3 linked regions of the Homo sapiens genome follow. The gene in region 2 interacts genetically with the main gene of each other region. Each region holds a gene or a part of one and is shown on either strand. Other genes may lie near its edges. The genes, in order: CDC73, UBA2 and ARGLU1.

Region 1 (3,656 bases), on a different chromosome or scaffold from region 2:
GACGCCTGTAGTCCTAGCTACTCAGGAGGTTGAGGCAGGAGAATGGCGTGAACCCGGGAGGCGGAGCTTGCAGTGAGCTGAGATCGCGCCACTGCAATCCAGCCTGGGCGACAGAGCCAGACTCCGTCTAAAAAAAAAAAAAAAAACTGGCATCAATTTTAATCAAAATCTATGGACATGCAACAGTATTAATTTTTTTTTCCTATTGAGACGGAGTTTCGCTCTTGTTGCCCAGGCTGAAGTGATCTCGGCTCACTGCAACCTCCGCCTCCCGGGTTCAAGCGATTCTCCTGCCTCAGTCTCCCGAGTAGCTGGGATTACAGGTGTGCACCACCATGCCCGGCTAATTTTGTATTTTTAGTAGAGACAGGGTTTCATCATGTTGGTTAGGCTGGTCTCGACCTCCCGACCTAAGGTGATCCACCTGCCTCAGCTTCCCAAAGTGCTGAGATTACAGGTGTGAGCCACTGTGTCTGGCCAATGATTTTTAAGTGATCTAAAAATAATTAGTAATGTTGTGGGATAGGCAATATTCACTTTCAGATATACCTACACAGAAAGTATTAATATACAAAGCTTTTAAAAATATGTCACAGATGCTTAAACATTAACATATGTTACTTAACAGCAATCTTTTGACATACACATCATATGCGCAGAACTATATGACTGTTTCTCTTAAATAAAGTGAGAACATTTCTATACTGGATACAGTAAATACAAAGAGAATCTTACTTTTAGCAAATATATCAACTGGTGATCCATCAGGCAAAAGCCATGGCCAACCTTTGAACTGCCATGCAGGACCCTGCACAAAAACGGCTACAACGCGGTCCCTACAAGTAGAAAAGTGGGTGGGGGGAGGTAGGGGACAGACGGAGATTATTTCAAACTTGAGCTTTAGCTACTATAAATCCCTTAGGCAACAGTCCCATAAACATTCATGTGAAAGAGTCTTATCAATCCTTCCATGAAGCAAATACAGTACTTACCACCTTTTCAATATGATATTGCCATTAGAATGTATTAATGATTGCTATACTTCTCATGTATCTGGTTTTTACACCTAAGTCTTTTAAACATAATTCAATGGACAATACTCGTATGTAATCTTGTTTGCCCTTTCTGTTCCCTTCTGTTAATTAGAGTAGTGGCCCACTTTTCCAATGTAATAGGGAATAGTGGTTGATAACTATTAATCAAAAAAGTTGTTTAAAAAATCATTTAAAATTCAAACACATCTTAAATATTTTACTTTAACTAAAAATATTACATTATAGGAACTCATCAACCATTTTACGAGGTCCCAGGGCCTTATCTGAGTTCTTGTGATTACTTAGGAAGTAATCTGAGTATAGAAACCATTTAGACTTTTATAATTTTTGCAATTGTTTTACAACTGTTTCATTCACCCTAAATTTATAAGTAGTTTTTAAAGCATTTTTTTCCCAACCAAACAACCCAGTTTTCCTAGAAAGAACAAACTTCTTTGTAGGCCCTCAAATTTCATTATTTTATAAAATACTTAATTGAATTGAGAAATTATAAGAAGTACTGCCATAAACAGTTAAAGCCAATAACTAAAGCGGTGGGAACAAAACAACAACATTATCAGCAATAATGGTTAACATTAGTAGCATTTATTGAGCATTTACTATGTGTCAAGTGCCATTTTAAGGACTTTATGCGTTACTTATGATGTTAACACATTTAATCTTCAAAACAATCCAATGACCTCACTGTATTAGAAACCTCATTGTATAAATGAAGAAACAAGTGCATGGGCATGTTGGAGAAGAGAAAGGAGGAAGGTAGAAGTACAGAGAAAAGGAAGAAGAGAAGAAGAGAAGGAGGAGAATAAATTACTATGCTAGGGCACTGGGTATGCTACTGTTCCTATTTAAGGGCAGATAAATCATGAGAATAGCCATCTCAGTATTATTATGAAAATAGTTTTCACCTTGCAACTCTGTGAAAGGGTCTTAGGAATGACCTGAGGTCTGCAGACCACACTTTGATAACCACTGCAATTAATGACGACTGCAGACATACAAAAAAACATTAAACCAGGGTTACCTTCTATTCAAGCAAAGACCTACAACTATTAAAAACTGCCAGCTTAAAGTTCTCAACCTGCTCAAAATCTCCCTAAAACTTAAAGTATAGTAATAATAAAATAAAAAATTAAAAAAAATCTCTGAGACTAAAATTAAATCTTAAGTTAAAAAATTTCCCCTTTCATGGGATACATGCCTCAAACTGTCAAAATCATCTTTGGCAATGCAGCACACTATTAAATAATCTTTCAGTTTTATGATGTAACTTACAACAGTTGAAAGCCCAAGATGCCTGCCAAAGCAAAGGGAATTTGCTGGACAGAGGTCACTTATATTCTACTGGGTCTCATAGCATCAGCACGGAAGCAGAATAAAAATGTTACTCCCCATGAATTCTTGGAAGGACAATTAAAGGAAAAGGAAAATAAGGAAGTAGGGAAAATGCTGGAGGCTTCAATGGCTGGAGACCCTAACTAATACACACAAGCAGTATTTTACAGCATAGTGATGAGATTTGTATACACTGTATTATTTCTGCAAATACACTGCAAACATAAAATACAAGTGATATAACTTTCCTACTTGGTTTTAAGCTTGATATCTGAAATTCTCATCTTACTCATTTTCTATATTACTCAAAGTATCTATTAGGTACCAGAGAAGAATTATAATTTTAAATATATATATATATATTTATGTGTGTGTTTTAAATATATATATATTTTAAATTATATTATATATATAATATGTATATTATATATATTATAATTAAATTATATATATAAATAAATATATAAATTTTAAATATATATATGTGTGTGTGTGTGTGTGTGTGTGTGTGTGTGTGTGTGTGTGTGTGAGAGAGAGAGAGAGAGAGAGAGAGAATTATCCTACCAGTCTTGAGGCATAAGTTTAAGGGGCTGGTCTACTACTCTATAAGATACTGTGACACTAATTAATTGCAGTGCCCCCTGGTTGCAATTTTCTTAAGAAAATTTTTAATATTAATATTCTCAATGCCTTGACTTCTTAATGCCTGAAAACTAACAAGTACTTCAAAGGTAAATTCATCTAATGTGCCATGTGTTGCGTTCTCTGTATCACGGATATATACTCAACTTTTACTCCCGGTTAAAGAAATAAGGTAATTTGTGTGTCTAAATTTATAGGCACTTTATATTATAAACAGCTTAATATTTTGTTAAAGGACACTTAAATTCAATAAAAGTGTTAAACCATGATAAAAGAGCTATTCCTATTTTTATTACATTATTCCCTTACAATAAAATATGCCTTCATTTTTTTCTTACCAGAAAATTGAAATTCTCCAAACCAAAAATCTAAACATAGAATACCTTACATTAGCCTAATTTGCTGGGTTCTACAAGCTGATCCGGAACAAATGAACAAGTGGAAAGAATTTTTTACACTGGGTTTTCCAGAAGTTGGAATGTTTCTTCTTATAAGTAAAATCAAGTTTACTTATCCAAAATATAAAGTTATTGAGGAATTATTAGAATGTTAACATTATTGATGACCAAAGTAAATATACATCAACACACTTTTCAAAGACAGTTTCTATTTAGAACCCATGATAAA
Region 2 (3,656 bases):
GTGAACATGACTTACAAGCCCAAATAAAAATTACTACACCTGAGTGTCAAATATGAGTTTACCTTGATCACACTAAACAGAAAAACTACTGGAAAGACAAACAGCAGCTTTCCAAGAAATTATTTCTCAAAGTTGTAAATGTTATCTAAATATTATTCGCAGCCATTTTCTTATATGTGTTTTTTTTTTTTTTTTGAGCAAAACTAAGTGGGTCTGGGGAATACAGCCATATCCTTATAATCTCCTGAAATTAAGTAAACTACAAGATTAATTTCAAGATATATCTCCCTACACAGAAAAATCTTAGGTGTTACTAAACCAAATACTCTTCATTTTATTGATATACGTTTCTTTTTGGCGGTGGGGAGACGGAGTCTTGCTCTGTCACCCTGGCTGGAGTACAGTGGCATAATCTTGGCTGCAATCTCCGCCTCCCAGGTTCAAGCAATTCTCCTGCCTCAGGCTCCCAAAGAGCTGGGATTACAGGCATCTCCCACCACTCCCAGCTAATTTTCATATTTTTAGTAGAGACGGGGTTTTTCCATGTTGGCCAGCTTGGTCTTGAACTCCTGACTTCATGTGATTCGCCCGCCTTGGCTTCCCAAAAGTGCTGGGATTACAGGCGTGAGCCACTGCGCCCAGCCCATTTTATTGATACACATTCAAGTTTAAAATTACAATTTAAGGAATTTATGCCTTGGAAGAAGTACATGACACCTGAGACAACTTTTCAAAACTATCAAATGAATCATCTTTCATTATCTCAGATATTCCTAACCTCAGTCTCTTCTTTTTTTCTTTTTGTCTGAGACGGAATTTCGCTCGTTGCCCAGGTTGGAGTGCAATGGCGTGATCTAGGCTCACCACAACCTCTGCCTCCCGGGTTCAAGTGATTCTTTTGCCTCAGCCTCCCAAGTAGCTGGGATTACAGGTGCGTGCCACCACACCCAGCTAAATTTTGTATTTTTAGTAGAGATGGGGTTTCACCATGTTGGCCAGGCTGGTCTCGAACTCCTTACCTCAGGTGATCCGCCCGCCTTGGCCTCCCAAAGTGCTGGGATTACAGGCGTAAGCCACCATGCCCAGCCACCTTCAGTCTTAATACACAGTGGTGTGTCAGAATCACAGTAACAAGGATATAAAAAGCAATGTCTGGCCGGGCGTGGTGGCTCATACCTGTAATCCCAGCACTTTGGGAGGCCAAGGCAGGCGGATCACCTGAGGTCAGGAGTTTGAGACCAGCCTGGCTAACATGGCAAAACCTCATCTCTACCAAAAATGCAAAAATTAGCCAGGCTAATTGTTCAAGAATCAAAACTCTCAAATACTGTTTTAATATAAATTGCAGCAGATTTAGAGTTTTCTCTGAAACACCATTTCTGATGCCCTCAGCCTTCCAATATGCTTTCTTGAGGGTAGCCACATGGCAAGCAGTCATGAGACTCATACTGCAATGCAGACAGAGAACTTCCGTCTTGATCTGTCAACAGATACTGAAGGCCTCCACTTATTCAACAACTTAATACGCACTGACATACACAACAGTCTTTTGTAGAATGGTATTCAATAAGGTTCCAAGAATAACATTTAACAGTTAAAAGAAACAAAGACACAATTTCTAACATGAATAAGCTGCCAAAAAAAATTAGACGCAACCAGCAAATGTTAAGTACATTATAATTCTCTTTCTATAGTTTCAAAACATGGAAAACGACTCTTCAAATGTAACTACAATATTTAACTTCTTAAAAGAACTGAAAGAAAAAATATCTGAATAGCAAATGAAGCCGTGTTGAGGTTTTAAAAACTGAGATATGTGCCAGGCATGGCGGCTCACACCTATAATCCCAGCACTTTGGGAGGCCGAGGCAGGTGGATCACCTGAGGTCAGGAGTTGAAGACCAGCCTGACCAACATAGAGAAACCCCGTCTCTACTAAAAATACAAAATTAGCCAGGCGTGGTGGCGCACGCCTGTAATCCCAGCTACTCGGGAGACTGAGGCAGGAGAATCGCTTGAACCAGGGAGACGGAGGTTGCGGCGAGCTGAGATCGCGCCACTGCACTGCAGCCTGGGCAACAAGAGCGAAATTCTGTCTCAAAAAAATAAACAAATAAATAAATAAACCAAAACAAAACTGAGGTATGAGCACACAGGTATTTTGTTCTATTATTCTCTAGTTGTATTTAAATGTTTGAAGTACTTCACAAATACACCCCTAAAAAGTTTTCAAAGTTCCCTTCCACATTATAAGCCCAGACTCTTAGACAACAGAATTTTTTGGTTTTTTTTTTTTTGAGACAGAGTTTCGCTCGTTGCCCAGGCTGGAGTGCAATGGCGTGATCTCAGCTCACCGCAACCTCCGCTTCCCCGGTTCAAGGGATTCTCCTGCCTCAGCCTCCCAAGTAGCTGGGATTACAGGTGCACACCACCACGCCCGCTGATTTTTGTATTTTTAGTAGAGACAGGGTTTCACCATGTTGGACAGGCTGGTCTCAAAATCCTGACCTCAGGTGATCCGCTCGCTTCGGGTTCCCAAAAAGTGCTGGGATTACAGGCATGAGCCATCACGCCTGGCTTTTTTTTTTTGAGATGGAGTCTCACTCTGTTGCCCAGGCTGGAGTGTGGTGCCATCTTGGCTCACTGTAACCTCCACCTCCGAGGTTCAAGCAATTCTCATGCTTCAGTCTCCCAACTAGCTGGGATTACAGGTACACGCCTCCACACCCAGCTAATTTTTGTATTTTTTGTAGAGACGTGGTTTCACTACATTGGAGAGGCTGGTCTCGAACTCCTGACCTCAAGTCATCTGCCTACCTCAGCCTCCCAAAGTGCTGGGATTACAGGCATGAGCCACTGCACGCAGCCGACACAAAGAAATTTTTGATGCCTGGTATATCATGCTTACCACTCTAAGGATTTTAATACAAAAGTCAAATGAAACAAAATGGCAGAGCTGAAAGATTTCCTTGCCCATAGTCTTTTGAGCACGTTTATAGCATTTTAAGTTTGTTTTTTGAGACAGAGGCTTGATCTGTAGCCCAGGCTGGAGGGCAGTGGTGCAATCTCAGCTTACTGCAACCTCTGCCTCTCAGGTTCAAGTGATTCGCCTGGCTCAGCCTCCCAAGTAGCTGGGATTACAGGCGCCGGCCACCATGTCCAGCTAATTTTTGTATTTTTAGTAGAGATGGGGTTTCACCATGCTTGCCAGGCTGGTCTCAAACTCCTGACCTCAGGTGATCCGCCCACCTCGGCCTCCCGAAGTGCTGGGATTACAGGTATGAGCCACTGCACCTGGCCCCGCATTTTAAGTTTTATATAAGCATAAAAGTCCTTACATTTTGGATGTTCACCTGTTCATTTTATATAAATACAAAGTTTATTTCCTCCTGCTCCAAGGTCTCAAATAAATATTTGGGAAGTTAAAAAAATAAAACTTTTCTTTACCTTTTTGATAGTAGTTACTTGTCCAAGATACCCAGCTGTTCCACTTTCAATAAGAGGAACATCAGCTGCCAGGCACATTCTATTAACATGGTTTCGGGCAGCTGGAAGTAAAACAAACAGTATGAGTTTTTGGGAAAAAAAAAATTAGTTATCTTTAATTAGGATGACACAGACTCAAAACTATCTTACTGGCTTCATTTTTTGTACAA
Region 3 (3,656 bases), on a different chromosome or scaffold from region 2:
ACAATTCTCAACTGTTCTTCGGCCTGAAAGTTAAAAGTAAAAATTAATTATAGAAATGTATTAAAAATTATCATATGTACCCCTGCAACAGGTGTTATCTATTATGTATCTACAAAAAAATTTTTAATGCAAATGCAAAAAAGGGGGTAAAAACAAGGACTTCCTATGAATTACATGCCTTCAAAATATTTTAGTTATGAGGTGACAACTTACACACAATGGCATGTGTCATAAAATCTGACGAAGGTCACATAGTTTGGTAGAGAAAAAAGAATTAAGAAAATTAAAAGAGAACCCTTTATTAATTACATCTACATTTTCTGTCTTTCATTTTCAATGAAAATAAATGAACAAATTATGGAAAAGCATTTACACATTTTGGAAGTGGAAATTAATTTCCACAAATCACATGTTGAGATGACAGATTTTGTTCTATACCTATTTTTATCTCTAACTTCATTGTACCAGATTAATAGATTGTTAATTATAAACCGAGGTACAGATTTACTCAAAGAGCAGGTTATCTACCAATTGCCATATTTATAGTTGAAGGGCATACACACACACAAAAAAACAGAAACATAGGAAAAAATCTCCACTGGGGCTTTTTGTGTGGTCAAATCATGCTGAAAAAAAAGGGACTATATTATAGTATCAGTAGACAACCAAGAAACACGACAGACCCAATTACCTGAAGAAAAATATTACAAAACCTTCTGACCTGACTAACTATAAAGTGCTATCTAATTTCAAAAGGACACTGGTATAACTGATTCCACTCCTGCAGTGCCTTCAACTCCTTCCATGTCAAGCAACTTCTTTCCCGCATTCTTCCACAGATTTCCCCCTCTTTACCAAAGTCAGGCCCTTCTCATGCTTCCTAGAGATACCATACACACATCTTCAATTCTCAATTCTCAACCAAGCACAATTTTAATCCCTTCCCCAAGGGGACATTAGGCAATGCATGGAGATGATTCTGGCTGCCACAACTGGGAATGGCTCCTGGCATCTAGTGGGTGGAAGACTGGGACAATGCTACACATCCTATAATATGGAAGACAGCTCCCACAACAAAGAATGATCCAATCAGTGCCAAAATTGAGAAAGCCTGCTCTAACCCTTTTTAATATCAGTTATCATGATTTATCCTTTTTCCCCTCTATCTGACAGTGATCTTAAAACATTCGCTGCATCCTTTGAGCTGCCTACCTATTCCCATTCAAAGTCAAATTTTAGGTCATTGATTCCATCTCCATTATTCTACTAAAATTTTCTTCTGTATGGTCAAAATCTATCAAATTCAGTGATTTTTCTCTTTATTCAAATAAATTCTTCTGTTCACTTAAGTCTTTTAAAAACGTTCTCTCTTCTGATACATTCTCTAATGCCACACACTAATTACTTCTTTTGTCTCCATTGATATATATGTATTTTTTAAATAAAGTGTAAAGTGACTGGTTTACAGGCATTTATGGCAGAGGAAGATGGAAAAGGTAACAGGACTCCGGTATGCAATAAAAAATGTTGAGATTTTATCTTAAGTAGCAAAAAGGGAAGAACGCAAAGAAGTTTAGACAGCAATGTGACGTAGACTAAAAGATAGGTGTTGGAACAAATCAACCGCAGTCAAGTAAGGTTGGAGATAACAAAGATCAGAATTACAAGCAGTGAGAGAATCTGGCAGGTGAGCATGGTGGAAAATCCAACAGAGAGCTAAAATGTATCTTTAAGATACAGCTCTCTAAAACCTTTTTCCTATGCTACATTTAGACCTGGCTACTGGACACATCCACCTGGGAGACCTAGGACTTGCTTCAAAATTCAACATGTTTCAAGATTTAAATTCTTCCACTTTATCCTTAAAATAAATCTGCCCTTTACACTTTCCCTTCCGCCACTCAAATTCTATAGCTTTATTTCATCTCTTCCTTCTTCAGTCAAGTTTGTTACTTCTTGTTTTATATTCTCTGCCTAGAGTTTATTTTCATTTCTTTTGCCAGCTTCATCAGTTTAGGGCCACATATCTTTTGTACATCTAAAATGGTGCCCGTTTCCAGTGTGTCCTTCAATCCATCCTACACGATACTGCCAGACTCACCTTTCTTGACCACTGCTCACTCTTTCTTGTTCTCAAATTGCCAATGATATCCACTGTCCATGGCATACAGCTTAACTTCCTAAAGTATAATGTTTCTCTAAGACAAGATTTTCTATAACCTGGCTCCAGCTTTGTTTCTACTCCTCTTCTAAATTCTCCTTTCTATCTTGTTCCCCCGTCTTTTGCTCATGCCATTCTTTCCTTCTATGGAAATCCTACCTGTACATCAGAATCTATTTCAAATAGCCACTCTCTTCCTTAGGCTTTCACTGATATTACAACAAAAAGAACTGCCTGCTATCGGTCATCATTAATGAATTCATATGCCAATCACTTTATCCAGTTTTAATAAATCATCACAAATTTGGGGTAAGAGCTTAGTGTGTGCAACTGAATCAAGATGTAGTAAGGGTTCTTTGGATGTGTGTGTGTGCCTAAGAAACATTTTATCAATATAAATACTCAGATTCACTTTCTTCTAAGGTTCTAACTCAACCCTAGGAAAGCATCCTAGAGCCCTGGAGAGTGAGGGTACATAAAGAACATCACAACCTTAATCCATAAGAGAAATCTAATGAACATTACAAATATACCATTTTTTACCCTAGAAGACAGAAATTCAAAGTGTGACAGCACACTGCTGTGGTTTCAGTATGTCCCCCAAAGGTCGCTGTTAGAATTAACTGGCATTGTTAACAGTATTAAGATGTGGGGCATTTAAGCAGTGATTAGGCCATGAGGGGTTCATCCTCATGAATGGATTAATTCTGTTATTACCCGAGTGGGATGTGGGTTGGTTACCATGGGAATGGGCTCCTGATAAAAAGACGAGTCTGGCCACCACTTTTCTCTCTCTCTAGGGCCCTCTCTGTCTAGCTTGCTCGCCATGTGATGCCTTCCACCATGGGGAAACCTCATGGGATGCCTGTGCCATGTTCTTAGGCTTCCCGGCTTCCAGAACCCTGAGCCAAATATTTTTATAAATTACCCTGTTAGAGCAGCAAAAAATGGACTAACACACATATGCTATCATATAAAGAGCACTCTCACACTATCAAAATTACATCTTCGTAATACTTTATGCCAGCAAGTACATTTTCTGGAATTTACATTATGTACTTGTACAGCAATGTGCAAATTTTGCACCCATGCGAAACTGATATATTTACAGGGTTACATATTACAACACAGTTTATAGAAAGAAAAGAATGTGAAAAAAACCCAAATATCCACCAATATGGGGTACACTAAATAAATTACTGAAGATATATAAAGGAGAATATTGTATAGCCATTAAAAACAAGTAAGAGGAAAAAAGGAGGCCCCTATGTTCCGCAATGGAAAAATCTCCAAGTTACACTGTTAAATGAAAAAAAGAAAGTTCCTTGTGTACATGCTACTTTTGTGCAATAAAGGGAGAATTAAAATATTATGCATTTGTATCTGCCTGAATATGCTTTTACAGACATTCTGAAAAGATTTTAAAAACCCGTAACTGAGTACACTTTTGGAGACGGGGTTGGGAATTGGGGATTGGGTTGGGGGTAAGGTAAAG

What was found.
Region 1: changes in UBA2 (region 2) and CDC73 together harm fitness less than expected from each alone (positive genetic interaction), as found in Homo sapiens cells (one large-scale study listed by BioGRID).
Region 3: changes in UBA2 (region 2) and ARGLU1 together harm fitness less than expected from each alone (positive genetic interaction), as found in Homo sapiens cells (one large-scale study listed by BioGRID).

Annotation. Positions count from the first base shown.
Region 1 is NC_000001.11:193,233,436-193,237,091, reverse strand, and holds part of CDC73 (parafibromin), read right to left. Parts: intron 837-3,656; coding exon 736-836; intron 1-735.
Region 2 is NC_000019.10:34,434,760-34,438,415, reverse strand, and holds part of UBA2 (SUMO-activating enzyme subunit 2), read right to left. Parts: intron 3,549-3,656; coding exon 3,448-3,548; intron 1-3,447. UniProt on the Homo sapiens protein: The heterodimer acts as an E1 ligase for SUMO1, SUMO2, SUMO3, and probably SUMO4. It mediates ATP-dependent activation of SUMO proteins followed by formation of a thioester bond between a SUMO protein and a conserved active site cysteine residue on UBA2/SAE2.
Region 3 is NC_000013.11:106,544,138-106,547,793, forward strand, and holds part of ARGLU1 (arginine and glutamate-rich protein 1), read right to left. Parts: intron 24-3,656; coding exon 1-23. UniProt on the Homo sapiens protein: Dual function regulator of gene expression; regulator of transcription and modulator of alternative splicing. General coactivator of nuclear receptor-induced gene expression, including genes activated by the glucocorticoid receptor NR3C1.